Linked DNA regions of Homo sapiens. The protein of the gene in region 1 interacts with the protein of each later gene in a pairwise test. Each region holds a gene or a part of one and is shown on either strand. Other genes may lie near its edges.

Evidence for each region.
Region 2: the proteins of MAST1 (region 1) and PRAM1 interact in a two-hybrid assay, tested with the Homo sapiens proteins (one study listed by BioGRID and IntAct).
Region 3: the proteins of MAST1 (region 1) and OGA interact in a two-hybrid assay, tested with the Homo sapiens proteins (one study listed by BioGRID and IntAct).
Region 4: the proteins of MAST1 (region 1) and BLMH interact in a two-hybrid assay, tested with the Homo sapiens proteins (one study listed by BioGRID and IntAct).

What each region holds. Positions count from the first base shown.
Region 1 is NC_000019.10:12,862,023-12,869,645, forward strand, and holds part of MAST1 (microtubule-associated serine/threonine-protein kinase 1), read left to right. Parts: intron 1-2,786; coding exon 2,787-2,925; intron 2,926-3,023; coding exon 3,024-3,156; intron 3,157-3,293; coding exon 3,294-3,459; intron 3,460-3,694; coding exon 3,695-3,796; intron 3,797-3,957; coding exon 3,958-4,080; intron 4,081-4,630; coding exon 4,631-4,740; intron 4,741-5,451; coding exon 5,452-5,630; intron 5,631-5,707; coding exon 5,708-5,955; intron 5,956-6,620; coding exon 6,621-6,827; intron 6,828-7,043; coding exon 7,044-7,273; intron 7,274-7,623. UniProt on the Homo sapiens protein: Microtubule-associated protein essential for correct brain development. Appears to link the dystrophin/utrophin network with microtubule filaments via the syntrophins. Phosphorylation of DMD or UTRN may modulate their affinities for associated proteins.
Region 2 is NC_000019.10:8,499,261-8,507,575, forward strand, and holds the start of PRAM1 (PML-RARA-regulated adapter molecule 1), read right to left. Parts: upstream 3,381-8,315; 5' UTR 3,332-3,380; coding exon 3,305-3,331; intron 942-3,304; exon of another isoform or gene 885-941; coding exon of another isoform or gene 852-884; intron 521-851; coding exon 1-520. UniProt on the Homo sapiens protein: May be involved in myeloid differentiation. May be involved in integrin signaling in neutrophils. Binds to PtdIns(4)P.
Region 3 is NC_000010.11:101,814,889-101,822,802, reverse strand, and holds the start of OGA (protein O-GlcNAcase), read left to right. Parts: upstream 1-4,358; 5' UTR 4,359-4,780; coding exon 4,781-4,979; intron 4,980-6,850; exon of another isoform or gene 6,851-7,038; intron 7,039-7,914.
Region 4 is NC_000017.11:30,288,442-30,296,192, forward strand, and holds the start of BLMH (bleomycin hydrolase), read right to left. Parts: upstream 3,504-7,751; 5' UTR 3,379-3,503; coding exon 3,366-3,378; intron 3,068-3,365; coding exon 2,870-3,067; intron 1,042-2,869; coding exon 932-1,041; intron 1-931. UniProt on the Homo sapiens protein: The normal physiological role of BLM hydrolase is unknown, but it catalyzes the inactivation of the antitumor drug BLM (a glycopeptide) by hydrolyzing the carboxamide bond of its B-aminoalaninamide moiety thus protecting normal and malignant cells from BLM toxicity.

The DNA.
Region 1 (7,623 bases):
TGGAGTCTCACTCACGCTGTCACCCAGGCTAGAGTGCAATGGGGTGATCTCGGATTACTGCAGCCTCCGTCTCCAAGGTTCAAGTGATTCTCCTGCCTCAGTCTCCCGAGTAGCTAGGATTACAGGCGTGTGCCACCACATCTGGCAAATTTTTGTACTTTTAGTAGAGACGGATTTTCACCATGTTGGCCAGGCTGGTCTCGAATTCCTAGCCTTAAATGATCCATCAGTCTCGGCCTCCCGAAGTATGGGGATTACAGGCGTGAATCACTGCGCCCAGCCTTGTTTTGTTTTATTTTTAGTGCATTGTCCAGGCTGGAGTGCAGTGGTGTGATCACAGCTTACTGCAGCCTTGAACTCCTGGGCTCAAGCAATCCTCCCACCTCAGCCTCCAAAAGTAGCTGAAACTACAGGCAGGCACCACCATGTCCAGCTAATGGAGGGTTTTAAGAAGATTTGATATGATCAGATTTATGTTTTAAGAAAATCCATTTGGAGGCCCATTATAGTAGCTTACGACTGTAATCCCAGCACTTACAGTGGGAGACCAAGGCAGGCAGAACACTTGTGGTCAAGAGTCCAAGATCAACCTACCCAGCATGGTGAAACCCTGTTGTTGTTGTTTTTTTCTTTTCCTTTTTTTTTTTTTTTTTGAGACAGAGTTTCGCTCTGGCTAAACTCGTTGCCCAGGCTAGAGTGCAATGACGTGATCTTGGCTCACCGCAACCTCCTCCTCCCGGGTTCAAGCGATTCTCCTGCCTCAGCTTCTTGAGTAGCTGGAATTATAGGTATGCACCACCACACCTGGCTATTTTTGTATTTTTAGTAGAGATGGGGTTTCTCCATGTCAGCCAGGCTGGTCTCGAACTCCCAACCTCAGGTGATGTGCCTGCCTCGGCTTCCCAAAGTGTTGGGATTACAGGCGTGAGCCACTGTGCCCGGCCAATGAAACCCTGTTTCTACTAAAATTACAAAAATTAGCCAGGAGTGGCGGTGCACGCCTATCATCCCAGCTACTCGGGAGGCTGAGGAACAAGAATCTCTTGAACCCGGGGGCGGTGAGTGGGCAGAGGTTGCAGTGAGCCGAGATGGAGCCACTGCACTCTAGCCTGGGTGACAGAGCCAGACTCTGACTCAAAAAAAAAAAAAAAAAAAAAAAGAGAAAAAGAAAAAAATTAAGAAAAGATAATCCATTTGGCTCTTGTGGAGAGAGCAGAATCAGGAGACTAGGAGGTAGATGACTGCTCTAGTCCAGGTTCATTGCAGAGGAGGAGGAGAGAAGGGGGCCAAATCAGTATCTCTATGGTGGGTCTGTGTGCACAATAGATGTGCTCAAATGCAGATTCCTGGGCCCCACCCTCAGAGAGTTTCTGAAACCAGCAAAATCTCGCAGAAAAGAGAACAGAAAAAAGAAAGAAATCATTAGCTTTCTTGGTCATTGGTGATTGAAAAACCAATATTACCTTCAGGAATGGCTGGATGTAGGTGCTCAAACCATTCCATCAGGAAACTCTCCATCTCTTGGCTCTGTACTCCCACATGTGGGCTTCCTTCTAGACAAGCCCTCATGTAGCAAGGTTGCCATCTAGCAGATCTCAGCTTACATTCTATGAGCTTAGCAATTCTTACAGGAAAAGAGTGAAAATTCCAAGGGCTAACTCACTGGAGCAACTTGGGTTACATACTGCCCCGGTTGCTGCACATGGAAGGAAATCTAGCCTTTGTAGGATAAAAAGGAAATAGATATTGAGAAACTGAAATACCAATGCCAATTACAGTAAATCTGGCAGAGGGGCAGAGGCAGTGGCCAACACTTTGGGAAGCTGAGGCAGGAGGATCCTTTGAACCCAAGAGTTGGAGACCAGCTTGGGCAACACAATGAAACTCGTTTCTACAAAAAACTTTTTTTTTTTTTTTTTTGAGACGGAGTCTTGCTCTGTCACCCAGGCTGGACTGCAGTGGTGCGATCTTGGATCTCTGCAACCTCTGCCTCCCAGGTTCAAGCCATTCTTCTGCCTTAGCCTCCCGAGTAGCTGGGATTACAGCCGTCTGCCAACAAGCCAGGCTAACTTTAGTATTCTTTTTTCAGAGATGGGGTTTCACCATGTTGACCAGGCTGGTCTCGAACTCCTGACCTCAAGTGATCCACCCGCCTTGGCTTCCCAAAGTGCTGGGATTTCAGGCGTGAGCTACCATGCCCAGCCTTGAACAATTTTTTAAAAATCAGCTGGGCATGGTGGCTCACATCTGTAGTCCCAGCTACTCAGGAGGCTGAAGCAGGAGGATTGCTTGAGCTGGGAGGTTGAGGATGCAGTGAGCTGTGATCTTGCCACCGCACTCTAGACTGGGCAATGGAGTAAGACCCTGTCTCAAAAAAAAAAAAAAAAAATCTAGTGAAGACCAAGAATCTGCATCTAAGGCTTCCAGCTCCAAGGTTCAGACACCAGGAGATAGAGGGCTGTGCTTCCAGATGCAGTTGATAAGTGGGTAGCCTTTGTTCCCCAACTAAACCTCACCTCTACCAACAACTGCCTGCATGACCCATCCTTTCTTTGAGTCTCCATCCCTTTGTGTATAAGATGAGCTGATGACACCAACTTTGGAGGATGGCTAAGAGGACAAGAAGAACCCAGTAGAGGACCTGGAGGGAGGGAGGCCCCTCTCAGAGCCTCAGTTTCCCTTATCTATAAAACGGGTACAACATAACATGAGAAGTTGGTGCTATGGTGCATGTCCAGAGAGAGGAATGCCTCCCTTTTTATGCGGGCCCATTTCCTGGCCTGCAGGCGGCGACTGTGCCACCCTGCTGAAGAATATTGGAGCGCTGCCCGTAGAGATGGCCCGCATGTACTTTGCTGAGACGGTGCTAGCCCTGGAGTATTTGCACAACTATGGCATCGTGCACCGCGACCTCAAGCCTGACAAGTGAGCTTTGATCTTTCCCATCACTCCCTCTGTCCCTCGGGAGGCCAGGAGGCAGAATGGACGGGCCTCATCCCTGAGATCCCCACCTGTGCCTACAGCCTCCTTATCACCTCCATGGGTCACATCAAGCTCACAGATTTCGGCCTCTCCAAGATGGGGCTCATGAGCCTCACCACCAACTTATATGAAGGCCACATCGAGAAGGACGCCCGAGAGTTCCTGGACAAACAGGTGTGTGTGCGGGCATGGGGGTCGCTGAGGGTGGAGTGACCCTGCAGGACCTCGGGAACCCAGGGCCTGGTGGGGGGCACAGCTCTCCCTTGAGGGCCCTCCTCTGGCTGGGGCGTGGGCTGACAGCCTGCCCCCAGGTGTGTGGGACCCCAGAGTACATCGCGCCCGAGGTCATCCTGCGTCAAGGCTACGGCAAGCCAGTGGACTGGTGGGCTATGGGGATCATCCTCTACGAGTTCCTGGTGGGCTGTGTGCCCTTCTTCGGAGACACACCAGAGGAGCTATTTGGACAGGTCATCAGTGGTACGTGGCTTGGCAGTGTACAGGGGCAGAGTGTGGTGTGCACGGAGAGATGGACAGGCTCAGGGTTCCAGGGATTTCAAAAGCGACCCCCCAGAGGATCGCTTGCACTCAGGAGGTCAAGGCTGCAGTGAGCCATGATCGTGCCACTGCACTCCAGCTGGGTGACACAGTGAGATCCTGTGTCCAAACAACAACAACAACAAAAACCGCCCCTAAGTTCCGTTTTGTTTTGCAGATGACATCCTGTGGCCCGAGGGGGATGAGGCCCTACCTACGGAGGCCCAACTCCTCATATCCAGCCTCCTGCAGACCAACCCTCTGGTCAGGCTTGGGGCAGGTAAGTCCGCCATGCAGAGGAGCTGAGGGCCCACTGATAGAGAGCAGGCCTCCAAAACCCCAGGCCCAGCCTGTGCTGTGGCCCCGGGGCGGAAGACATGGGGGGCGGGGCTGGGCTGCTGGGTTGGCCATCAGCTGTGGCTGGAATCCCTTCCGTCCCAGGCGGCGCTTTTGAGGTGAAGCAGCACAGTTTCTTTCGAGACCTGGACTGGACAGGGCTGCTGAGGCAGAAGGCCGAGTTCATCCCCCACCTAGAGTCGGAAGATGACACTAGCTACTTTGACAGTGAGCTGGGACACCAGGCACGACCTGGGTCGAGGGGTGGGATCCGGGAAGAGGGACCCTGGGGTAAGTAAAGCCTGGGATAGGGCCTGGCTAAGTACCAAGATGTGATGCCTAGGTGCGAAGGTGGTATTTTGGTGGGGGCGGGGCCAAGTGGGGCGGGGCTGACATACAGGCGGGGCTCAGGCTGAAATGTAGGTAAGAACCTGAGATTGGGCTAGGTGTGGGGCCTGGCCTGGGTGAGTTGTGAGTGTGGGCCTGGAACTGAACTAGAGAGAGGTACTAGCGCTCAGAATGGCCTGGGGTGATGCCAGGGTGCAGAGCACTGTAGGTGGAGCGTGGCCTCTTTGGAGGCGGGGCTAGACGGTGCCACTGAGAATGGGGCAAGGACCTTGCCTGGGAGCGGAGCCTAAATTAAATACACTAATGAGGCAGGGGCGTGGCCTGACCTGAAGACTTGTAAACCCGTCTTGAACCAGGACTGGGCTCCTGTGGGGATGTGATATGAGGAGGAACCCCGTACCCTCAGTCACAGCCCATACCCGCTCCCCAGCCCGCTCAGACAGGTATCACCACGTGAACTCCTATGACGAGGATGACACGACGGAGGAGGAGCCCGTGGAAATCCGCCAGTTCTCTTCCTGCTCTCCGCGCTTCAGCAAGGTGGGCCAAGTCTGGGTGTGGGACAGGGCGAGACCCCAGGAGGGATGGGGCTTGGAGAGACAGTGAGAAACAGGTTCCCTGGTGCCCAAGGTCTCAGGAGCGGGAAGTTATTGATGGGGCGGGAGTCTGGAAGGTGGTAAGGCCACGCAAGAGGCAGGTTCGGGAGTCTATGGGACGGGCCTTTGGCACTGAGTGGAATCTAACAGGAATCAGGACAGTTGTGCAGATTGAGGCCATGGTGGGGCGGGGCTAGGTGTGGGTGGGGCGGGGTCAGGACGTGGGAATGAGGCCAGCAGCGAAGGCGGAGTAAAGCCCAGCGAAGTCTTGCTTTTATTTATTTATTTTTATTTTTTCTAATAACGGGCAGAGAAGCCATAGGCCTTGCTTTGAGAAGCAACTTGTAGAGGCGTGCAGGGCCTAGCCTGGGCTAAGGAGACATAAATTAAGGGGGTTGCTGGGAAGATGGGGCTGTGTAGAGAGCAGATTGGTCAGGGCATCGTCGGGGCAGAGCCTAGAATAAAACGCAGTGCCTAACTTTGTGGTGTGGGGCCTGAACTGAAGAATTGTAGGTTGGGGGATCATGCACAATTGGGCGGAGCCAGGCCTCGGAGGGTGGAGTGCGTTTTGCGGGGGATCCACTGCCAGGAAGCTGATTAGCTCCGGAGTGAAAGTGGAACCCGGGCTGGACTTGCCTCCCACCACCACCTACAGGTGTATAGCAGCATGGAGCAGCTGTCGCAGCACGAGCCCAAGACCCCAGTAGCAGCTGCAGGGAGCAGCAAGCGGGAGCCGAGCACCAAGGGCCCCGAGGAGAAGGTGGCCGGCAAGCGGGAGGGGCTGGGCGGCCTGACCCTGCGTGAGAAGACCTGGAGAGGGGGCTCTCCGGAGATGTGAGCAGGGGAATGGCGGAGTTTGGGGGCGGGGTCGAAGGGGGCGTGTCTTCCATAACCACGCCCCCTCCATGCAGCAAGCGATTCTCCGCGTCCGAGGCCAGTTTCCTGGAGGGAGAGGCCAGTCCCCCTTTGGGCGCCCGCCGCCGTTTCTCGGCGCTGCTGGAGCCCAGCCGCTTCAGCGCCCCCCAAGAGGACGAGGATGAGGCCCGGCTGCGCAGGCCTCCCCGGCCCAGCTCCGACCCCGCGGGATCCCTGGATGCACGGGCCCCCAAAGAGGAGACTCAAGGGGAAGGCACCTCCAGCGCCGGGGACTCCGAGGCCAGTGAGTGCCCTATCGTGCTGCCTTCCCCAATCTTCCCCAATGTCCTACTGGTCATATAGTGAGCATCCCACGAGCCTGGTGCTGTTTATGAAAGATCTCAGGTCCTATTCACATTGCAATTTGGGATTTTTTTTTTTTTTTTTTTTTTTGAGACAGAGTCTCACTCCATCACCCAGGATGGAGTGCAGTGGCGTGATCTCGGCTCACTGCAACCTCCACCTCCCAAGTTCAAGTGGTTCTCGCACCTCAGCCTCCCGAGTAGCTGGGATTACAGGCGCGCGCCACTACCCCCGGCTAATTTTTGTATTTTTAGTAGAGACAGGGTTTCTTCATGTTGGCAAGGCTGGTCTCGAACTCCTGACCTCAAGTGATCTGCCTTCCTTGGCCTACCAAAGTGCTGGGGTTACAGTCGTGAGCCACCACACCCAGCCCAATTTGGGATTCTTAACATTAGAAACACCCCAATACCATGGTCAGTCAGTGATACAGACCGATACAGACTATGTCTCTATATGAGGAGCAGTGAGGCATGCAGGTTACCTGCTCAGATGAAACTCACCATCCATCAAGGGTAAAAAGTGGAAAGAGCATTCCAGGCAGGGAAACAGTATGTGGGAAATCCCTGGCCTTGGACTAATTCCTAACACACTTGCTTTCTGTTGCAGCTGACCGTCCACGCCCAGGTGACCTCTGCCCACCCTCGAAGGATGGGGATGCATCAGGCCCAAGGGCTACCAATGACTTGGTTCTGCGCCGGGCGCGGCACCAGCAGATGTCAGGGGATGTGGCAGTAGAGAAGAGGCCTTCTCGAACTGGGGGCAAAGTCATCAAATCAGCCTCAGCCACTGCCTTATCTGTCATGATTCCTGCAGGTAATGCTGGGCCCCACCTGGCAGGGGAGGGGCTGCCCCCCATTTGAGGCAGGACAGACCAATGAAAATGCTGCATTTTCCCTGTCCACCGTGATTGGCTCCAGGCTGGACCAATGAGAGGCTGCTCTGCCACTGCCTTGGGAGGAGGGAGGAGCAGATACAGGGAGATGTCTATCTTCTTGGTTCTGATTTCTGACCATGGTTGTGTGTCTGTAGTGGACCCACATGGAAGTTCACCCCTTGCTAGTCCCATGTCTCCACGATCTCTGTCCTCCAACCCATCCTCACGGGACTCCTCACCCAGCCGGGACTACTCACCAGCTGTCAGTGGGCTCCGCTCCCCCATCACCATCCAGCGCTCGGGCAAGAAGTATGGCTTCACACTGCGTGCCATCCGTGTCTACATGGGTGACACGGATGTCTATAGTGTCCACCACATTGTCTGGGTGAGTACTCATGGGTGGAGTCTCCATCACAGAGTGGAGGGTGGTGGGGAAAAGGCCCCTCCAGCTCAAACCAGTTAGCCTGGGTGAGACACCTCTGTGACCCTCTATGCCTCTTCCCTCTCTAAACCTGTTTCTTTTTTCTTTTACTTTTTTATTTTAGGCGGAGACTCACTGTGTCGCCAGGCCGGAGTGCAGTGGCAGGATCTCGGCTCACTGCAACCTCTGCCTCCTGAGTTCAAGCCATTCTCCTGCCTCAACCTTCTGAGTAGCTGGGACTACAGACAGGCGCGCGCCACCACGCCCAGCTAATTTTTGTATTTTTAGTAGAGACGGGGTTTCACCATGTTGGC
Region 2 (8,315 bases), 4.4 Mb from region 1:
GTTCGGAGGGGGGTCTGGCGGGGTGACTGAGTTCGTCGGGCTGCAGGGGTTTCCGGGCCGGCGCACCAGGCTCCGGCAGCGAGGCCTTCAAAGGGGCCTCACCGACCTCAGGCTGCAGGGGCTTCCTTGGAAACGGAGTGGCCCCCAGCTGTGGGAACTTCTTGGAGAGGTCACTCAACTCCAGTTTGGACGGCTTCTTGGGGAGGTCAGTGACCTCAGGCGGCGGGGGCTTCTTGGGGAGGTCAGTGACCTCAGGCGGCGGGGGCTTCTTGGGGAGGTCAGTGACCTCAGGCGGCGGGGGCTTCTTGGGGAGGTCAGTGACCTCAGGCGGCGGGGGCTTCAAGGACACTGCACCAAACTCAGGCAGCGGGGCCTTCTTGGGGTGCTCGCTTAGCTCAGGCTGGGAGAACTTCTTCAGTTTACCAAACTCAGGCTTCGGAGGTTTTTTGGGCAGGTCGCTGGGCTCCGGCTGAGAGGCCTGGAACTTTGCTTTGATGCTCCGGAAGTCCTGATGGCTCTCCTAGGAGACGCAGAGCCAATGAGGCAGGGGCTCAAACACACAGAAGGGGCATGGAAGGATGGGCCTGGGGACCCTCAGGCACAGCCCACAACCACCACCCCTGCGCCCAGGCCCGGTCAGCCCTCAGCTCTTTCCCAGGAGCCCCCATGGATCCTAGGATCCTGGGACCGACACCCCTCCCTACTTCTCCATTTAGTGCTGATTCCACACCCAACCTCCTCTAGCAGCACTGGAGATCCCGACATCCCTCCTGCAGCCTCCAGTCCCACTGCCCTCCCCCCATGGGTGGTACCCCACCCCCCCAGCATCCTTGACCCCCTCATTCTTTCACCCCTCCCACTGCATGTCTCCAGTCTCGTTCCATTGCCCAGGCTGGAGAGCAGTGGTGCAATCATAGCTCACTGCAGCTTGCAACTCCTGGGCTCCAATGATTCCCCCGACCTCGGCCTCCCCAGTAGCTGGGATTACAGGCTTGAGCCGCCGCGCCCAGGCCCCCAGTCCCTTCTGTGCTAATTTCAAAACACATCCGGAATCCAACCACTTCTCACTGCCTTCACCACTGTCACCCCAGGAGGTAGTGGGAGGCAGTGTCTGCCCTCCCCCAACCAATTGCCTGGATTACTCTAACAAGCCCTTCCCTGGGCCTCTGCCTACCCCCTTCCCTGGTCAGTTCCCCCCATGGCAGCTGGAGGGAGAAGCCTGTTGAACCCTGAGTCTGTTTGTGTCCCTCTGCTCAAAACTCGGCAATGCTTCCTCATGTCCCCACAGTTCAAGCTAAATGCCTCATAAAAGCCTGGGCGAACCAGCCTCCCTACCCAGCCACCTTCTCCTCCCTGCACCCTGAACACTTCCCTCCGACCTCGGGGCCTCTGCCCTGTCCCTGACCCAGGACATGTCTCTGCACCACCTGGGTCTCTCCTTTTCCTCCTCCCAGCCTCTGTTCTCATATTTTCTTATTAGAGAGGCCATCCAAGGCCACCCTATTTGTTTATTTTTATTTTTTGAGATGGAGTCTTGCTCTGTCACCCAGACTGGAGTGCAATGGCGCGATCTCGGCTCACTGCAATCTCCACTTCCCAGGTTCAAATGATTCTCGTGCCTCAGCCGCCCAAGTAGCTGGGATTACAGGCACTCGCCACCACACCTGGCTAATTTTTGTATTTTAACTAGAGACAGGGTTTCACCACGTTGGCCAGGCTGGTCTCAAACTCACGACCTCAGGTGATCCACCCTCCACCCGCCTCAGCCTCCCAAAGTGCTGGGATTACAGGTGTGAGCCACCGTGCCCAACCTAGACCACCCTATTTTTCTTTCTTTCTTTTTTTTTTTTTTTTTTGAGACGGAGTCTCACTCTGTCACCCAGGTTGGAATGCAGTGGTGGAATCTCGCCATACTGCAACCTCCGCCTCCTGGGTTCAAGCGATTCTCAGCCTCCTGAGTAGCTGGGATCACAGGTGTCTGCCACGACGCCTGGCTAATTTTTTTTGTATTTTTAATGGAAACAGGGTTTTACCATGTTGGCCAGGCTGGTCTCGAACTCCTGACCTCAAGTGATCCACCCACCTCGGCCTCCCAAAGTGCATGAGCCATCACGCCTGGCCTAGACCACCCTATTTTAAATGGATCACCCCATCCCACTACTGCCCTGCATTCAGCATGCATGATTTTCTCCATCGTACCCACCCCTACGTATTATACTATTTTACATTGTTTTTAATGTGTCTTGATTTTTTTTTTTTTTTTTTTTTGTCTCTCTACACCACAACTTCCCTCAGTTCCTCAGCCTCTGCAAGGCAGAGACTTGGCTCATTCATTGCTGTCTTCCCAGGGCCTGGAACATGGTAGGTGCTCAGTAAATATTTGCTGAAATAAACAATATTCAGGCAGCACAAAGACAGCCATGTACTCAGCCTGACCATCAGGAAAACACAGAGATGCCTGGAGACGGCCATGCGGTCCCTCTCACACCGTCTCTGACATGCGGGCTGATGGTCAGGAATGCTCACAGTTGACAGTGCCTGAGAGGATTGGTGCAGACACCGTGGGCACAGGCGCTGTCTCCTGCATACCCAGCTGTCCCAGCTGCCCTCCTAGCTGGCCCTGCAACCACTCCTCACAGAGGTAGGCAGATTCACAAGAAGGCCAGGCCTCCTTAGTCCTACAAACGCCCCTTTCACCTGTGGTCAAGGAGATTGGGGGAGGGAAAGGGCAGAAACGTGTGGCCTTTGCTTCCTGCGTGTGCCTCACTTTCCCCATCCAGAGGACCAGAGACCAGGATTGCTCCTTGGAAAGGCAGCAATTCCCACCTGGGGCCTGAAGTGCCCCTGTCAAAGCCCCGAGTGGTTTGAAGGAAGTGCTCCCGGGCGACCACAGGGCTAGATAAGTCAGGGTTAGCAGGTCACAACTTGGGTGACTGGACGGGGGAGGGTCATGACCCACTTTGTCACCCCGCAGGAAAGCACTGCTCTCACCCCAGCAGCCCGTTCCCACATGGCTGCTCATGTTGACCTGGGGAGACGGGAGTTGTCCCCCCGGGGAGTCCCATCTGTCCCCCTCGCAGTCCCAACCTGAGCGTGAACCCCCAGGAGCCCGCGCTGTCCTGGGGTGTGCCTGGTGGCCGCCTACCTCGGGTCCTTTTTGCCGACCCTTCCCGTTTCCCAGATGTCTTTCGCAGCCACCCCCCGCCCCCCCGCCCGCCCCTCCACAGGTGGATCCTATCCTTCTGGGAACATCTGTGTCCCTTGCTTCCCAGCCAGTGAGGCACAGGCCTCTTCCAGCACTCACCATGGCTGCAGGCAGGTGATGGGCCATGGGATGAGTGGGACCCGAGCTGGGGCCGCTGCCTTCAGGAAGTGACTGTGGCTTCTGCTCCACGGTCAGCACACAGGGTGGGGGCTGCTAGAGGTGGGGCGGGGGAGGGCAGAGGAGGAAGGGAAGGAGGTGGGGAGGCTCCAGTCCGTCTCCAGATCCTGCCAGCCACTTCTTTTTTTTTGAGACTGAGTCTTGCTCTGTCGCCCAGGCTGGAGTGCCATGGTGCCATCTCGGCTCACTGCAACCTCTGCCTCCCGGGTTCAGGCAATTCTTTTGCATCAACCTCCTGAGTAGCTGGGATTACAGGCGCGCACCACCGCTCCTGGCTACTTTTCGTATCTTTAGTAGAGAAGGGGTTTCACCATGTTGGGCAGGCTGGTCTCAAACTCCTGACCTCAAGGGATCGGTCCGCCTCGGCCTACCAAAGTGCTGGGATTACAGGTGTGAGCCACTGCCCCGGCCCCTGCTGGGCACTTCTATTTCGCTTGAATTCCTGTCCTGCCTGCTACTGTCCCAAGCTTGGGGCACTGGTTGCCCGCATGTTCCTAACATGGTCACTAGTTTCTTTCTTTTTTTTTTTTTTTTTTTTTTTTTTGAGACGGGGTATCACTTTGTTGCCCAGGCTGGAGTGTAGTGGCGCAATCTCGACTCACTGCAACCTCCGCCTCCCAGGTTCAAGCGATTGTCCTGCCTCAGTCTCCTGAGTAGCTGGAATTACATGCATGTGCCACCACTGCCGGCTAATTTTTTGTATTTTTAGTAGAGACGGGGTTTCACCATGTTGGTCAGGCTGGTCTCAAACTCCCAACCTCAGATGATCTGCCCGCCTCGGCCTCCCAAAGTGCTGGGACTACAGGCGTGAGCAACCACGCCTGGCCAACTAGTTTCTTACTCTCTATAGTCCCCATCATTCCTACTACTTTGGTGTCCCCATCTCTGGACTCCAGGGAGGACTCCATGCCAGGCCCTGGTGACCTCCTGGGCTAGAGAGCCACAGGATGGGGAGATCTCAGCAGATCAGGGGTACGGACAGCTCTGGGGTTTAGGAGGCTCCTGGGGAGGCCCAGAGGCCCAGGACGTGGGGGCCCATGTGACCGGGTGAGGCCTCTGCTGTCTGCCCTGGTTGGCTCATCCGCCTTCCTCATTTCAACACTTCCATGAAATCCAATTCCCGGCTCTGAGCAGGACTCACTTGTTCTGGGGCAGATATCACAGGCCATGGATGTCCCAGGCTGCCGCCCTGGGCAGAAAGCTTAGCTGGTACAGCAGATTTGGGGGTCGGTGGGTGAGTGGTGTCAAAGGCCTTGCACCTGGGCCACGCACGGTGGCTCACGCCTGTAATCCTAACACTTTGGGAGGCTGAGGCAGGAGGATCACTTGAGCCCAGGAGTTCAAGACCAGCTTGGGCAATGTAGCAAGACTCCATCTCTACAAAAAATATAAAATTAGCCAGGTGTGATGGTGCACGCCTGTGGTCCCAGCTGCTTGGGAGGCTGGGGTGGGAGAATCACTTGAACCCTGAAGGCGGAGGTTGCAGAGTCAAGATCACGCCACTGTACTCCATGCTGGGTGACAGAGAGAGACTCCATCTCAAAAAAAAAAAAAAAAAAAGGCTTTGCAGTTCTGGAGGAGTGAGGGGGTCTGAGGACCCGAGGACACACCAGATTCCCAGAGGTTAGAGGTAGTAGAGAGAAGAGGAACCAGGAGACAGAGACAGGGGCCAAGAGGGGGTGAAGGCAGTCACTTGTGGTGCCGAGGACTGGCCAGATAAGGACAAGCCCTGACCACAGAGCTCAGCCCACAGGAGATCAGTAATCTCCGTCACGGTAGACAAAGGGAGAAAACACCTGCTAAGAGAGTAGAGAGCCCTGGTTTTCAGTTTGAGCACATGTTGGAATTGCCTGAACAGTTAAAAAAAAAAAAAAAAGAACCGGCGGTTGGGCAGTGTGGCTCACGCCTGTAATCCCAGCACTTTGGGAGGCTGAGTCGGGTGGATCACCTGAGGTTGATCACCTGAGGTTGGGAGTTCAAGACCAGCCTGGGCAACATGGAGAAACCCCATCTCTACTAAAAATACAAAAATTAGCTCGGCGTGGTGGCGCATGCCTGTAATCTTGGCTACTTGGGAGGCTGAGGCAGGAGAATTGCTTGAACCCAGGAGGCGGAGGTTGCAGTGAGACGAGATGGCTCCACTGCACTCCAGTCTGGGTGACAGAGCAAAACTCCATCTAAAAAAAAACAAAACAAAAAACAGAACCTACAAGAAACTCTGACTTAATCAGTCTGGGGTGTGGCCCGAGCAAGTATTTTTAAAACATTTTAAAATTTTTTTTTTGAGACAAAGTCTTGCTCTGTCTCCCAGGCTGCCTCCCGGCTTCAAGTAGCTGGGATTACAGGTGCCTGCCAACATGCCCGGCTAATTTTCTGGATTTTTAGCAGAGCTGGGGTGTCACCATTGGCCAGGCTGGTCTCAAACTCCTGACCTCAAGCAATCTACCCACGTGGGCCTCCCAAAGTGCTGGGATTACAGGCCTTAGTCACTGCGCCTGGCCTGCCTGTTTTCACGCCTCCTTTAAGAGCACAGACATCAGGATTCTGCCATCTCTGTTGTGCCTTTGCATCCTGTCCTGGGGCACAGTTCCCAGATGTGGGTTGCCCTCCCAAAAAGGAGTCTCGGGAGGACAGTATGGGCTCTCTGTGGGTCTCCAGAACCTTGGCAAGTGAAGGAAAGAATGAAAGAAAGAACAAGTGGCCAGGCGCGGTGGCTGACGCCTGTAATCCCAGAAGTTTGGGAGGCCAGGCGGGCGTATCACCTGAGGTCAGGAGTTCGAGAGCAGCCTGGCCAACATGATGAAACCCTGTCTCTACTAAAAATACTGTTTGTGCACACCTGTAATCCCAGGTACCTGGGAGGCTGAGGCGGGAGAATCGCTTGAACCCGGGAGGCGGAGGTTGCAGTGAGCTGAGATTGCGCCATTGCACTCCAACCTGGGTGACAAGGCGAGACACCGTCTCAAAAAAAAAAAAATTAAATTAAATAATAAAAATAAGTAAATAAATAAATCAAGCAATGCTTGGCCACAGTAAGGAGCTCAATCAAGGTAATTAAAGGATTGGATGACAGCTGATGGATTCCCAGGTGCCTGGGCTGGTCACTACCCGTGCACTCTCGCAGCTAGGAGGGTCCAGCCAGGGCGCGCGCACCAAGGCCCCACGGGGGCGCCGTGGGGGTGAAGCGCAGGTCCCGGAGCTGTAGTCATGGTGCGCCTCCCCGCCAACTACCCTTTGTGTATTTGGCGCCTCCGTAGGGGCTCCCGGCAGGGTTCCGCGCGGCGCGGCTGCAGACAGGGACAGATAGGGTTACCGGAATCCCGGAGAAGGGAGCCCGGACCAGGGGAGTGAGAGTTCGTTAGGGCGCGCCTTGGGGAATCTGCGGGGTCGGAAACGCGAACAACGGTGTGCAGGGGGAGGAGCCCGGGGAGCACGTGGGCGGCGGATCCCAGGGCCGCAGGGCGCCCTCCACCTCCCCGCTCCTGGCCCGCAATGAGGGTAACCGGACCGGCACCTGCAAGTGACAGCTGGGGCTGGACAAATGCCGGGCACGGGCCTCTGGCCGGCCTCAGAGCTGTTCAGCGCGAGCCCGCGGCTTCCAGCCAACCTGCCCGCTATCCCCACTGCTCTCCCGGCTTTCATTCCCCCGAGTCTGAGATTCCTGGGCGCCCCCTGCTGGGCGGAGCCGGGGCCCAAGAGGGCTGGGCTCCTGTGCATGGGGGTTGGGGGCCGGCTTGAGGGTAGGAGGTCGTTTCTGCAGTGGACAGGGTGAACGGTGGAGGACAGGTGGTGAGCCAGCTCCCCAGGCCTCGCGGCAGTCAGTTCACTCCAGAGGGTAGTGTGGTGGCCGTGGGCCCGCTGTACACACAGGAAGGGCTGTCCCATCTCCGTGGGTGATGGGGTAGGGGAGAGGTCCCTGGACGGACGTGTTGGCTCTAGGTTTCTCTGGAAAGATACTGACAGACTGGGAAGAGGCGTGGCCTAGATCTGGGGGTGGCCGAATAAAGAAACTGATGGGGACAAAGACTCCTGGGGGCCCCCGGGACCCTGGAGAGGGGTTAGGGGCCTGGGGGACAGAGAACACAGCGCTGTCCCTGGAGATGGGGGAGAGGCTTGGACTACAGCCAGATCTAGGGACCTGCAGAATGCGGGAACAGGGGCGTGTCCTCTGGACCTGCTGGCAGGGTTTTCTCTTCTCGTGGTAACCGTGCGCAGCTCCCAAGATGGTGCAGAATCAGTGCCGCTGACTGGGAACTGGGGCTGGCTAGAGGCCTCCTAGCCTCACCTTCTCTATATATCTGTAAAATGGGCCCCTTCACCCTGTCCCACCCTCCTCCCCAGGTCGAGAGAGTCCCAGGCAGCCATGGGCTCGGGACGTGAAGTTCTCAGCAGACATTTCCCAAGCCCCTCCTCTCCCTGCAGCCTCTCTTTTCATCCTCGCGTCCACCCCAAAGGACTCACCAGTCATCATGACACCCTTTTAAGGACGAGGGAATTGGGAGGCAGGGAAGTCGACTCTTTTCCAGGGTCCCACAGTGGTGGTTTCAAGGCTTCTGGCTGAGAAGGGGGAGCTTAGGGGGCCTCCTGATGGCCTGTCCTACCCCATCCTGACAACCACCTCAGCTGGGGCCTACAGGTTCTGGGAGAGTGGACACCCAGCCCAAGCCACGTCAGCTGAGGCTGCTGCCCCGTCACATCACAGCCCCATCAAGGACAGAGCAGTCTTCAGGCCCCTGGTGAGGCGGTGGGCAGTGGGGCAGACAGACGGGTCCCAAGGGCCTGAGGATCCCCTCCTGCCCCTTGCAGTGGCTGAAGGGCTTCTGGAGCCCAGAGCTGTCCATCTTTGAGGTGACATGGCACTGAGCAGGTGTGGGGCAGGTGGCCCTTGGCTTGTCTACCTGGATGGCTTTGACTCAGAGCCTGAGGTGGACAC
Region 3 (7,914 bases), on another chromosome or scaffold:
TCAACTTGAATTTTAAATCTTAGGCCCTACAGCTCAGACCTAAGCCTCTTTTCCAAACCACCCCTAATCCCATGGCTTTAAACACCGTCGATATGCAGAGGCTCCTAAGTTTATATCCCCAGAACTCTCTCTTCTGAAATCCAAAACCTGTCTATCCAATTGCCCCCCGCTTTTTTTTTTTTTTTCCTGTCACCCAGGCTGGAGTGCAGTGGTACAATCACAGCTCACTGCAGTCTCAAACTCCTGGGCTCCAGCGATCCTCCCACCTCAGCCTCCAGAGTAACTGGGACTACAAGTGTGTGCCACCCACACCCTGCTAATGTTTTAATTTTTTGTAGAGATGGGGTCTCACTATGTTGCCCAGGCTGCTCTTGAACTCCTGGGTTCAAGTGATCCTCCTCCAGTCTCAGCTTCCCAAAGTGCTGAGATTACAGGAATGAGCCACCGTGCCTAGTCCAATTGCCTATTTGATATATTAATGTGGACCTGTAATGGTTGAACTTAACATGTTCAAAATGGAGCTTAGATTCATGCCTTTCCAGTCTTTCCCATCTCAGTAAATGACACCAACATCCATCTAGTTGCTCAGGTCGAAATTTAGAAGTCTCCATTTCTTCCTCTCCTTCATTCTCCCTCCACCCCCATTTAATCAATCACCAATTCTACCACCAAAGGTACACCACCTCTCTCTCTCTGATGCTGTTTCCTAGCCCAAGCCACTATTGCTACTCACCTAAATTACTCCTTCCTATTTGTCCATCTGAAGTAGCTCCTCCTTGATGCAGTTGGCAGGTTTCTTCCCTTAATAGCCCTTACCACAAACTGTGAGTTCCTATGTGTGTACTGAATTTGTTATTGTCTGGTTCTCCAAACAGAATGTAAAATCTGTGAGGGCAGGGCCCTATCTCATTCATTCCGCAAATATTCATCATAGGTCTACTAAGCACTGTTACTGTTGTAGGTGTTGGGGGTGGGTGGAGAGAGGTGTGGTATGGTGAGAAAGTGTATAGCAGTTATGTGGCAAGAACCACTCTTCAAATTTGAGGGACACAGAAATGGGGCAAACCTTCCCTATGAGACTGGACTATGGAAAGTAGGAGAAATTGTGGCTGCTGACTTGCTGGCAGTGATTAAGGCAAAGAGGAAAATGTCATGAGACTAAGGACATCAGCCAGAATGACAGCCCCCAAATCTCCTGTCAACCTATAAGGAAGAAGCTGAGGCAAAATGAATACAAGTAGAGAGTTTATTATAAGCTTGAGGATTGCAACGAAAGAGCATAGATTCAAGTTGCCCTAAATAGACACTCTGATTAGCAGCAGTTACAAGTGGATTTTTATAGGGAAAGAAGAGGCAGTTCCTGAGTTATTTACCAACAGTTTACATTAAAATAACATAAGCTATTGATTGGCTATACATTGTTAAACTATAGGGTGTGTGTTAGAATGTCCAGTACAACATTATTAGGTTAATTTATAGCTACTTGTGGCAAGAGCAAGCAGTGTCAAGAGATGAATACATAGCTCAAAGGAGGGAGGCATAGGATGTGATTCTGTCATTTTCTTTTCTTTTTTTTTTTTTTTGAGACTGAGTCTCACTCTGTTGCCCTGGCTGGAGGGCAGTGGCACGATCTTGGCTCACTGCAACCTCTGCCTCCCAGGTTCAAGTGATTCTCCTGCCTCAGCCTCCCAAATAGCTGGGATTACAGGCGCGCACCACCATGCCCAGCTATTGTTTGTAGTTTTAGTAGAGACGGAGTTTCAACATGATGGCCAGGCTATTCTTGAACTCCTGACTTTCTGCCCGCCTTGGCCTCTCAAAGTGCTGGGATTACAGGCGTGAGCCACTGAGCCCGGCTGATTCTGTCATTTTAATGCCTCGCTGGGCCTATTTATTTATTTTTAATTTTTAAAGATTTATTTATTTTTTAATTTTTTTTTTTTTAGAGGCAGGGTCTTGTTCTGTGGCTCAGGCTGGAGTGCAGTGGTGAGATCCTAGCACTACAGGTGCACACCACTACGCCTGGCTTTTTTTTTTTTTTTTTTTTTTTGTTTTTTTTTTGAGATGGAGTTTAGCTTTTGTTGCCCAGGTTGGAGTGCAATGGCACGATCTCGGCTCACGCAACCCGGGTTCAAGTGATTCTCCTGCCTCAGCCTCCCGAGTAGCTGGGATTACAGGCATCTGCCACCATGCCCAGCTAATTTTGTATTTTTAGTAGAAACGGGGTTTCTCCATGTTGGTCAGGCTGGTCTCGAACTCCCGACCTCAGGTGATCCATCTGCCTCGGCCTCCCAAAGTGCTGGGATTACAGGTGTGAGCCACCACGCCCGGCCTATTTTTATTTTTTTATAAAGACTGGGTCTGGCAATATTGCCCAGGCTGGTTGCAAACACCAACACTGCGCCCAGCCATCTGGGCCTGATAATTTAAAAGGACTCTCATTCCTCAGATAAAAGTTCTTTTCGGCCAGGTGAGGTGGCACGTGTCTGTAATCCCAGCACTTTGGGAGGCTGAGACTGGAGGATCACCTGAGCCCAAGAGTTTGAGACCAGCTTGGGCAAGATGTTGAGACCCCCGTCTCTACCAAAAATGAACAAATTAAAAGAGTGTGGTGGCGGGCACTCGCCTATAGTCCCAGCTACTCGGGATGGCTAAGGCGGGAAGATCCCTTGAGAGCCCAGGAATTCGATACTTAAGCTATGATTGCACTAGCCTGCGTGGCAAAATGAGACCTCTTCTCTTACAAAAAAAAAAAAAAAAAAAAAATTGTGTTCTCAACCCCAACGGACCACAATATCCAGTAAAGCTGCTATGGCCCCTAACTCTCAGCACAGGAGGTCCCTTAAGAAAATGCTTGTCCGGCCGGGCGCGGTGGCTCACACCTGTAATCCCAGCACTTTGGGAGGCCGAGGCAGGTGGATCACCTGAGGTCAGGAGTTCAAGACTAGCCTAGTCAACGTGGCGAAACCCCGTCTCTATTAAAAACACAAAATTAGCCGGGTGTGGTGGCGGGTGCCTGTAGTCTCAGCTACTCGAGAGGTTGAGGCAGGAGAATAGCCTGAGCCCAGGAGGTGAAGGCTGCAGTGAGCCGAGATTGCGCCACTGCGCTCCTGCGCTCCAGCCTGGGCGACAGAGTGAAACTCTGTCTCAAAAAAAAAAAAAAAGTTTGCTCCTAACCCCCATCTCAACAATCCAGGACTGAAAAGAAGAGGGACCATGAAAGTCCCTGAAACTACAAGTTGGGCTACGGCTAAAGAAGGTAAATATCAGACTGAAGTGTAAGATGGACATTACTAAGTCTTAATCATCATTTCATGTTTATACCTCACAGGTTGAGATAGATTTCTCAAGCATCATAAATGTAAAGTGCATTAGGGTAGGTCTACAAGAGAGCTCTGAGAACATACAGCAAGGAGACCCAAACCCATCTAGGGCTCAGGGAAGGCTTCCCAAGGAAGCGATGCCCATGCCGAGGCCGAAGGGATCTCATGCCCCACTGCACACACCGCGCGCTCCCCATTCCCAAACAAGGCAGGCTTTTCATGCCTCCCTACCTTTGGACTCTGTTGTTCGTTCCACTTTCCTGGAGTGCTGTCTTCCCTCCCCTTCTGCTCAGTCAGGCTAACTTCACATCCTTTATAATCCAGCTGAAAAGTGAAGCCATGCCCACGGCCTCTCCCCAAAGGAGGAGTGAGTATCACCTGTTCTGAGCTCCGAAGTTCTTGGGGACACCTTGTGGGAACTGCGTGTGTGGTGGCTTGTCTCCACCACCGTACTGTGAGCTCATAGTGTTCTAGAGCCCAGCACGAGGCAAGCTCTATAGATGTCTACTGAATGAAGGAATGAACGAATGATTACATTTTAAATGGGATTAGGGGAAAATGATTCAAGGCAGAGGGGTGAGCTGAGCTCCTTGGAATGGTGTCTTTACCGAACCAAGCCTGGGTTAGGCAGATGTAATGAGCCCACCTATTACAAGAATCTCCATAGAAAGTAGGTCAGTTCTTTCCTATCTCTTTAAGAACGAGAGGCCGCGGCTCCGCGCCTGCGCACTGAGAGAATAAACACCTCTCCTTTTCACCTTCCCCCCTTCTCCCTATTGCCCCAACCGGCGGCAGCCTCCTCCCATACTCCCCTCCTTCGGGGCGGGTAATGGTCCGTCCGTCCCAGGGTGCCAGGCTTGTTTCGGAGGGTGGCAAGCAGAAATGGTACATTCCACTGCCTTCATTACCTTCTGCTTTTCGCGTCTCCTGTTCTATTTCCCCCTACCTAAAGAAGCTTAATAGGCTAGCCCCAAAGAAGGCGGGGGAGCCGGGCGGAGGGGACCGGTCTGAGCCGGTCTGCAGCGCAAGCGCAGTGCGGATAAACAGGAAGCGGGCGGTGGAGGCAGCAGCAGAGGGAGAGCTCGGGGCTTGGAGGGGAAACAGCGGAAGACCTAAGATTATCGGGAGGGCAGCAGAGGCAGAGAACGAGGACAGGACCCTTGGCCGTCTTCTTCCAGGGAACGAGAGGTCACAGCCTCGCTCTCCGCTTAGGCTTCTGGCGCCCCAGCTTAAAGCCGAGGCTGCGGCTGACAAAGGGCTCGCGCCGGTGCCGCCGCCCTTCTCATCCGGGCATTCGGGTCCCTGCGGAGAGGGAGGGGGAAGGGCAGAGGGGGAGGGGAAGGAGCCGGAGGGGCGCACACTTGGAGCTGAAGCCCTCTCCAGGGCTCCGGGCCGGTGCCCCAACGGACAGAGGTCGAGGAGGACCCGCAGAGGTGGCAGCGGCCGGGGGCAGGAGGATGGTGCAGAAGGAGAGTCAAGCGACGTTGGAGGAGCGGGAGAGCGAGCTCAGCTCCAACCCTGCCGCCTCTGCGGGGGCATCGCTGGAGCCGCCGGCAGCTCCGGCACCCGGAGAAGACAACCCCGCCGGGGCTGGGGGAGCGGCGGTGGCCGGGGCTGCAGGAGGGGCTCGGCGGTTCCTCTGCGGTGTGGTGGAAGGTGAGCGCCCTCCTTCCCTCCCCGTTTTGGCACTAACACGTTCTGTCCTCGGGAGGAGGGTGGTGGCGGGGATTTTGGAGACTCTAAAAGGCCGGAAAGCCTCTGGGTCTGAAATGTGGCCCTCCTAAAGCGAGGGGAGAGACGAGATGTTGGGCGAATCTCCTTGCACGTCTTAAGACGGCGTCGAATTCCCCCCTGGCCACTCACAAGTCTGACCCCACCCGTCTTGGGCTTGGAGCCAGGCCACCTCCTAAGGAGGCGGTGGTTAAGAGCCTGGTGTTCTGTTAGCCTCTGAGTTCTACTTCTTTGTACCTTGGGATCTTATTCCCTAGGGTTGTCTGGTTCCAGTGAAAAAATATGTGTAGTGCTTCTGTCACCACCCTTTGTGGAAAATCGGCCCACACTGACGTGCTTGTACTTCTGGAGTGAAGAGAAGCACGTTTGGCCTATAGTATTTCAAGTTCCACTTGGCTTAGAATATTTTTGTTGCTTCCCCCCACCCCCGCAAAGATTCATTTGCAACTTAGAAAATTGCCCTCTTTCCCAGCTACTGTACTTTGCTCTCGAGGGATGAAACTTTGGCTTTAATCACAGATTCTCGAAGTATCTGAGATGCGTAATTGGAATTTAGTGACCGCAGAAGCGGCTTTAAAAATGCCCTTCTCGCCTTTTTTCCCATTTACAGTCGAAAAGAACGATGGACTTTTTGGTAGTGAGGGAAAATTACCAGATGCTTGTTTCAGTTTCTGGATGAGAATGGACAGATAGTCCACCTTGCAGCTCTGTAGAGGCACGAATCGGTTACATTATTAGTCTTTCCGCAGTTACAGCATGTATTTGAATTTTCTGAAGTATTTTGGCCGATTCAGAGTTTCCTAGATGTCTGTTTTATATCTCTCTCGTATGTAATGGCGTGGATAAGGGTAAAAAATATATATATTTAAAAAACCAAAAAGGTATGGAAAAAGGATTGCTCTCGACGTTGAGAACATCAGCTTTTCTGTTTTTTTTCACCATATAAATTAGAGTATTCTTTCGAAAAATGGGTGGTGGTTATGGTACAGACCATAACAGGCTACTTTGCTGCTACAGTAAGGCATGAAAGAGTTCAGCGAAGTTAACTGTCTTGCAGAATTTGGGGGATTACAGAATGGAAAACTGCTATATAGTATTCATCAAAAATGATTGCATTGTGTGACTTATATCGTTGTATTTATTGGCTTGAGTGCAGGGAGATTTTAGAAAAAGAATCTGGTTTTTGTTATCAAAGATCTTGGAGTGGGGATGAGAGAGTGCTGGGAAATTTCGGAGCTAGACTGGAATGAGTCTAAGGAAACTTGCCAGTCCATTATACCTTCAGTTATAAAAGGAGAAAACTCATTTGGTTTAAATTCGTTTGTTTAGAATAGCATTAAAAGGCGATTCTTCCTATTTAAAGAACAGAGTTGTCTGCCATTCTCTCGTTTATTCCTCCTCCCTCCCGTGCCCTTGTATATTTTCTTAGTGACTGAGCACCTGAGCCAGCACTGATTTTTTGTGTGTTTTGTTGTTTTTGTTTTGGGAGACGGAGTCTCGCTCTGTCGCCCAGGCTGGAGTGCAGTGGCGTGATCGCGGCTCACTGCAACCTCCGCCTCCCGGGTTCGAGCAATTCTCCTCCCTCACCCTCCCAAGTAGCTGGGACTGCAGACACGGGCCCGGCTAATTTTTTGTATTTTAGTAGAAACGGGTTTCACCGTGTTGCCCAGGCAGGTTTCCACCTACGGAGCTCAGGCAGTCCGCCCGCCTCGGTCTTCCAAAGTGCTAAGATTACAGGCGTGAACTACCGCGCCTGGCTTTTTTTTTTTTTTTTTTTTTTTTTTTCTCTCTTTTTGATACCTCTTGGTTGGCACCAGCCGTAAAATGAATGAGCATAGAAATACTATAGTTACTGCTAGGATTTCTTTTTTGTTTTCTTTCCATCACAAAACTCTCTTGGTTTTTAACTTACATTAACAGCATTGCTTCCTCTTTGTGGTGCCAGTCAACCGAAACCATGAACCTGACTCTCAAAAGAGCCAAGGTAGGGTTTCTAAAGATTAAAATGTTTAATTAAGCTAGACATTTGAAAAGTCTTTTTTTATATTGGAGCAACTCTGAAAGGATGTTTAATGCCTACTCCTTAAAAAAAAAATGATAATGCTAAGTGCCGTAGGGATGCTAAAGACTTGTATAGGTCTGCCTGATCAAGAATATTTTATATTGGCCGGGCGCGGTGGCTCACGCCTGTAATCCCAGCACTTTGGGAGGCCGAGGCGGGCGGATCACGAGGTCAGGAGATCGATACTAGCCTGGCCAACATGGCGAAACCCTGTCTCTACTAAAAATAGAAAAAATTAGCCGGGCGTGGTGGCGGGCTCCTGTAATCCCAACTACTCGGGAGGCTGAGACAGGAGAATCGCTTGAACCCGGGAGTTGGAGGCGTAGATTGCATTGAGCCGAGATAGTGCCACTGCACTCCAGCCTGGGCGACAGAGTGAGATTCCGCCTGAGAAAAAAAAAAAAGAATATTTTGTATCACTTGTGAGAGGCTAACATTAGATTGTCCAGATGAAAGTGCTACAGTTATACATTGGTATGTAATGAATTTTAATTTGGTCTGTCATTGTCCTTTTTGTGGTGCAGAGGAGTCATTCTGCCTAGAGATTGGAGCTAAAATACATTGCAGAAATTTGTTTTAGACTAGTCTCTTATGTAGATTGTGTGGGTTTATGTAGAACATTTTGTGTTCAGAATGCTTTTATTAACCTTCTTCATGGTACTCTTGAGAGGCTGTCCTTATCTCTTACTGATGATTAGACTGAGACAAGTGGAAAGTAAAGGTTAGACAAGATGTAAAGTGTGTGGTTTGAGCTGTGATGAGCACACTAGGGAGTTCCAGATACCAGTTTGATGCTTA
Region 4 (7,751 bases), on another chromosome or scaffold:
TCCTGAGCTCAAGCAATCCTCCTACCTCAGCCTCCTGAGTAGCTGGGAGGACAGGTGTGCACCACGCGTGGCTAATTTTTGTATTTTTTGTAGAGATGGGGTTTCGCCAGGTCCAGACTGGTCTCAAATTCCTGGGCTCAAGCAATCCTCTCACCTCAGCCTCCCAAAGTGCTGGGATTACAGGCATGAGCCACCAAACCAGGTCAGTAATATACATTTTGAAGATTAGGAAATGGAATATGGCCAGGAGTGGTGGCTCACACCTGTGATCCCAGCACTTTGGGAGGCCAAGGCAGGCAGATCACTTGAGGTCAGGAGTTCGAGACCAGTCTGACCAACACGGTGAAATGCCCTGTCTCTACTAAAAATACAAAAATTAGCTGGGCATGGTGGCATGTGCCTGTGATTCCAGCTACTTGGGAGGCTGAGTTGAGAGGATGGCTTGAACCCAGGAGGCAGAGGTTACAGTGAGCCGAGACTGTGCCACAGCCCTCTAGCCCGGGTGGCAGGGTGAGACTGTCTCAAAAAAATAAATAAACAAATAAACAATCAAATAAAATTATTTACTGTTTTTCAGACAAGTTCTTGAGAGGGAAATTAGGTCCTAGAAAAGAACAAATAACCTAAAAAGATGTTAAAAAGGGAGATATATTGAATTGAATATTGAATATAAAATTTAAAATTTTAAATAGACAAGCAAGCAGTAAGATGAGTCAGTAAACTTATTTCATTGCAAAAAAATGGCCACCTACCAACCAAAAACAGTTCTGCCTTTGAAAGAGTCAACTTTTGATACTCTGGAAGTCAGAATAAAAGGTGTCTCACCTATTATGAAAGGGCAGGCTATAACTGGAAAAGCTACAAAAGAAGAGGCAGTCCCTACCAAGGCTGATATCAATACAAAAAGAATCTTGCCAGATCTGTCCCATACCTTGTCCCAAAAAAACAGGTAAGATTGGCTAAACTCAAATTCTTCAATATTTAACTTTTTCATGAATGGAAGCCTCATAACATTCAGACAAGAAAAGATCCAGCATCGCCCTGAAACAAGAAAGCACATCAAGAAATTATGAGGGTTCACATAGACTGCACTGCTCCAACTGTATTTCCCACCAATGAACTCATGACACGATCTGGACAATTCAGAAAGAGTAAATCAGAAAGAGCAGAAAGATTAAAAACAAAACAAGAAAGGTGGTAATTATTATTAGCAATATATATGCAAAGGTTTAATATCTTTAACACAAAAACACTCTTTACGTATCAAATAAAGAATCCATTTTTCAGAGTAATGCCTTCTCCAAATTGTACTCTACTTCAAAATAAATTAACTGAGAGCGCCATTAGAAAAGTCTTTTAAGGTCTTAAATACAGGGAAATTATCTCTTTTCTGAGGGAAAATTCTGAGGGAAAAACTTTGACTTGTATTGGGTATAACCTTTTTACTAATATGAAAATATGTTTATAATATATTGGTAAGTGAAAAAGATAGGTAGCTTACATAACAATGTATAAGGTATCAATGCATATTAAACACTATTAAACACACACACACACACAAAACTTGACAAATATACAAGAAAAATATTTACTTGGTATTTACAAATATTCTACATTAAACAAAAATAATTTTGTAACAAGAAGAAAACTCTAGTTAACTATAGTGTTTTATGAAAGTCACTAGTGCCTATTAGTTCGTCTTTACCTTACATTTACCTGTATGTCACCTCTCTTCTATATGCTATATATTTCTAGTAGAGGGGATCTGGATGCACTGGTGATGTGAAAACTGCATGAAAATAAACTACACAACTCACATGCTATTTGGATCTTTTGTATGTAAAAGTGACACTGCAAAATGTGTAAGACCTGACCTGTTCCCTAACGGGTCACTGCAATCTAAACTATGTAGGACCACTGTGACATTACTAACTGGATCATCTGTAGCCTGAGAGCCCACACCACTCCAAGCACTTTCTTCTAAAGCAAAACATTAATTATTGTAAGGTCTTGACTTTTTCCTTAACATTTAAAAAATCAACTTTATTCAGGTATAATGTACATACAATAAAATGTACTCACGTTAAATGTGTGCTTTGTGAGTTCTAACCGACTCTAAACAAGCACTGATGTGCTTCCTGTCCGTATAGATAGACTGGGGGGTCGTTTTTAAGTATAGAAAGACTTTAAAAAATCCGTTTAGTACAATTTTGTTGTGAGAATGTGCTCCTTATTTAGATTGCTGGATATCCAATCTTTCACTATACCTGTTTTTTCTGAGAGTGGTGCTAGAAAGCAGATAGCAAAACGAGACTTCTTGACCAGCAAGGCATGAGAACAGAACTTTTTTCTGTATTACAAACTGATCTACTGGTGGGAACTGAGCCCATCAGCACATTAGCTTCAGTTGTAACCAAGAAGCATATTTAAAAGTAACATCTGATGACATTTTAATGTAATTACATTGTATCTTTTCTATTTCATAGTATAGGGCCTTCAGGGCATTTCTGGGGAGTCCTCCAAAGATATGAACATTTTCACATGTTCTGTTTTGTGACCAAGACCATACATCTCCAAGACACGGGCTACAAACCACACAGCATTGGAACATAATATAGTCAATTACACTCAAACGTATACTCATGGACATGTCACTTTTGTACTCTAACCGCATGTACTAACAAGCCACAGAACAGCAAAACAAACCACATGGGTAATGTTCTTAGACCTGCCTGTACCTGTGCCTCATTCTTTACGAATTTACGACCAGTTCTTTCAGTACGAATTTAAGACCACTCTTAAATAAGACACCAAAATGGGACGCTGTCAGGAAGGTCAAGGAACGTATGGGAGAAGTGGAAGCCCACACCTGAGCTCTTCTGGTTGGTGATTGGCTTGCCCTCCTGGGGCACGGCGTGCTGGAACACATGCTGCGCGCGCTGCACCGTGGCCCGCTTCAGACAGATGTCCAGCAGGTCGTGGGTGGTCCCGACATTCTGGGCAAGTACGAACTGGGGGTCGGAATTCAGTTTCTGTATCAGAGCAGCTACCTTCTCCGAATTCAGTCCTGTTGGGAGACCAAACAGGATTTTAACGCAAAAAGAGGGGGAAAGGGCTGATCTGGGGCTCCCGCGTCCCGAATCTAACTTCGTAAGCGCATCCTGGGGTGCCCGCTGCAGCGGGGAAACCCATAAGCGGCATCCTCCTCCAAGGAGCTGTCTCCCTCCAGGCCGATCCAGCCTGCCCCGAAAGCTCCCTCCCCGCCATCGCCAAGGGTCCCAGCCCCCGGCCTTCCCCGCCGCCGGGCCTCACGGGGACCGCGGAGCTCCTCCAGAGGACCGCGGCGGGGGACGGCGGCACCTCACCCGAGCTGCTCATGGCGCCCACGCTGCCCGGCGGGGTAACGGTAGCTTCCAGGGTCCTTGGGCGAGCGCCGGGATTGCGCTGCGGCTCGCTGCCTAGGGGGCCCGACCTGTCTCTCGCACCCGGAGCGCCGGAAAAAGGAAACCGGCTCGGCGGCGGCGGCGGCGGCGGCGGCGGGGAGGCTGAGGCTGGGAGAAACGGGGTCCGCGGAGGGACAAAACTCCCCCCTCGCGTTGCTGAGTCAGCGCCGTCGGGGCTGGCCCCGCCCGGGGGAGGGCCGACGGGGGCGGCCTAGCTGACGCGCTGGGTCCGCCAGCGCCCGGGGGCTGAGGCCGCGCCTGCCCCCGCGCAGGACCGCACAGATGGTCTGCGCGCCAGGGCGGCGCCGGCGCCTTCTCCCCCTAGGTTCCCGCCTCCGGGCCGCGCGGGCGCCCTCCCGGGATCAGGCCCGCTCCAAGGAGGGAGGCTGACGGGTTCCCTGTGGGCCCAGACCCCCAGTACTCTAGCATCGGGGAATCGTCCCCAGGAAGCCTTGTGAGAAGCCAAAAGGGAGCTCGAGGCGGGAGGGAGGAGCTGAGAGGTCCCATAATTAAGCGTCGGGCTTAGGACGGGTCGATATGTCACAAGGAATGCACCCGAAGGCTCTTCCTATAGGCTTCGTTTGCTGACCAATCACTGCATTCTCAATGGCAACTTGTTGCTTGGATTCTCATCAGAAGCAAATAATTGTCTTTGAGGGGGAATGGGAACCAAGCTCTTCCCCACCCACTCCAAAGCTACTACCAGAGTTCTACAAATAGACATCTGCTCATTTCAAGAACACTACCCATCTGGTCTTCACGGAGTCCACGAGTGGCTCCTGTATAGTCCAGCATGTCCCGTTGGGTTTAACTCAGGAGGATGACAGAGGCTAGCCGTATGCATCAATATTGTTTCGCCGAGTTCTCTACAAAACTAACTGATGCTCCCCCTCTAGGCTTTCAAGATAACTCAACAGTTTCCCAAAGTTTTGAGATTGTAAAAACCTTGTTTTTGTTGATTCCGTGTTTCATGCCCTGAAATCTCAGCCCTTAGTAAGATGCTGGGATAGAACCCACAGAGAGTAAAACAAAAACACTGAAACCCTGTATCTGCTATTCAAAACGATGAGGTTGAGTGTGTGTGTGTGTAACCTAGAATCTAGGTCTTCTTAGATTGAAAATCATCGCAGTTCTAAGGAACTCTGATATCTGGAAAAATCCATACTCAGGCACCAATCAGTCATTTGAGAAAGCACGGTTTCTATGTCCCTAGAGAGACTCGGCTAAAAATTGGGGCTATAACATAGCAACTATCTTAAGTGGGCCCATCAACCATCCTATTCTGAGGTTCTTTCAATATCTGAAAAAGAAGAGGCTGAAAATTATACAGAAAGAAATCACTGGTCCTTTCACAAAATGATGTTCAAGCATCCTGCCCAATTCAAGTCATAAATTTTTATTCAGTATCTAACATGTACTAGGCACTGGACAAACTGCTGATGACATAGAGACGAACAAAGCTTAATCTTGCCGTTAAGAAACTCAATGTAGTAGGAAAGAGATGCAAAACAACTTTTAGACTATCTGTAGTAGCATACCAATAGTGCTGTAGACTGTAGAAGCAATGAGGAGAGCACTGTCAATTAGGGCCAAAGGGTGCCTGAAAATAGAAGTGACAAGAGAGCATGATCTTGAAGAGTGGATGAGATTTTTACAAGTCAAAGAACAGGAGAAGGGCATTCAAGGCACCAGCGAAGGCGCAGTGAATAAAATCATGTTCAAGAAAGGGTGCATCATAATCGGATGTGGCTAAGAGCAAGGCATGTTTTGGGAGCAGAGGCAAGGTGTAGGACTGGAAAAGTTTTGTAGGTTTGGGCCAAGATATAAAGGGTTTTATGTTCAATGCCTGAGCATCTGGACTTTATCTTATGGTTAATTAGAAGACAAAATGGGTTTTGAAACAAAGGAAAAATATGCTCAAGTCTGTGTAAAAAAAGAAACCTGGTGGCAGTGGGGAGAGTAATTTGGAGGGGAGGGGCTCTGGAGATAGGGAAACTGGTTAGAAGGTTCTTCCAGTAGTGAACTTGGGAGAGGACAAAAGCCTTACATTGCGGAAAGGGAAGAGGCATTGATAATCTTGAAGTTTTCAGCGGAATAAGAAGATGGAAGGTGGTGTCATTAACCAAGAGAGGGCATACAGAAAAATAGGCATATTTGCATATTTGCAAGTGTGCAGATCTGAACTGAGTTTGGGCCATAGCAAAATTAGGATGCCCCACAGGACACCCAGGAAGAGAAGTTCAGGACGTAGATGAAAAGATGTCTAGAGATTAGATGAGACACATAGGTTCGAGGTGGAACAATGAAAGTCAGCAGGGTTACAGAGGGAAAGAGGATAGAGCAATAAAGAGATGAAGACCACAGATAGTGCCCTGGGCTGCAATGTGCAGTTGCACAGGGTGTTCATGGCACAAGGGCACCAGGCTGAGTGTGGTGAGTAGGGACTAAAATGCAGTCCAGGCTCTGCTTGCCAAGCCATGCACCCTGGCCCAGGCTGTGCACAGAGTATGATGTACCTTTCACTACTTTTTTTTTTTTTTTGAGATGAGTCTCACTCTGTCACCCAGGCTGGGGTGCAGTGGCATAATCTCGGCTCACTGCAACCTCCACCTCCTGGGTTCAAGCAATTTGCCTGCCTCAGCATCCTGAGTAGCTGGGATTACAGGCACGCACCACCATACCCGGCTAATTTTTGTATTTTTAGGAGAGACGGGGTTTCACCATGTTGGCCAGGCCGGTCTTGAACCCCTGACCTCGTGATCTGCCCACCTCGGCCTCCCAAAGTGCTGGAATTAAAGGCATGAGCCACCACGCCTGGCCCCTTTCACAACTTCTTATAAGGATGCCATATGGGAGTAGTATTAGCTCTGAAAATGATAATGTTTAAAGTATGGGTGAAGACAGAGGAGCCAGCAGAAATAGAAAGATCAGTCAGCGAAGTAGGAGACCCGGGGAGTTATGTCCTGGAATCCCAGGAAGGCAAGGAGAGGACAGTGAATTGAATTAAAAGCTGCAGAAAGTCAAGTAAGATTGGTTTTGGCAACTGGGTTACAGGCAACCTTAGAGAGGGCAGTTTTAGTGGAAGGGAAGGGTGGGCAGAAGCCACATCGTAATGAGTTGAGAGGGAGGTAAATATTAGGGAAGCTCTTTGGGGAGAAAGGGTAAATTTGTGTCTACTGGAGGATGAGAGGAAGGAACCAGTACAGATGAGAGATTAAATATGTGTCAGAGAGGATACAATTGCAAGAGTAAGAGCTCAGGAGGAGATGGAATCACTGGGGAAGGTGGAGGGGACCAGTTTTACAGCTATTGCCACCCTTTCCATACTGGCGATTACATTTCTCCACCCCATGCCCAGAGATTTCTATCATCATCTCTTTGCTGGCCTCCTGCTCTGTCCTCATCATCAGGGTGGCACCCTTATTACCAGATTTCCACCCAGCAATTCACACCCATGCACTCAGCCCCCATATGGGCATGGTGAGGAGGTACAGAATAAAACCGGTTTCCCAGTGGGTTACCCCCAAATGACCTACCCAGGAAGACATTTCTCCAAGAAGAAAATTCTGTGTTCTATCCTTCTTATTCCAGCCAGAAGAGATGTTGTACAGCCCGGTGACACCTCGTGGGACAAAGCAACCAGAAACAGAATTCTAGTATGAAGTCTCTAATATTAAAAAAGAAAATATTGCCTGTAATCCCAGCACTTTGGGAAGCTGAGGTGGGAGGATTCCTGCCTTGAGTTCAAGGCCAGGAGTTGAAGACCAGCCTGGGCAACATAGTGAAACTCCACCACTACAAAAAAAAAAAAAAAAAAAGAAAGAAAAAGTTTTATAAAAAATTAGCTGAATGTGGTGGCAGACACTTTTAGACCTAGCTACTCAGGAGACTGAGACGGGAGGATCACTTGAGCCCAGGAGTTTGAGGCTGCGGTGAGCTATGATCACACTGCTGTACTCAGCTCTCTCTAAAAAGAAAGAAAAGAAAATCTTTATAAATCCTGTGAGGCAGCACCATTTGCCACTGCAGATATGCCTTCTGCCTGTTGCTTCCATGCCACTCTACCAAGTTAAAGCAAACAAGGCCAGTCTCAAGGCAAATTTTCCACCCTGTGTCTCCTCCTTTGCTGTCCACCAATCTTTGACATGTGTTTGTCAACTACTTCTTTTTTTTTTTTTTTTGAGATGAAGTCTCGTTCTTGTCCCCCGGGCTGGAGTGCAATGGCGTGATCTCGGCTCACTGCAATCTCTGCATCCCAGGTTCAAGCAATTCTCCTGCCTCAGCCTCCCAAGTAGCTGGGATTACAGG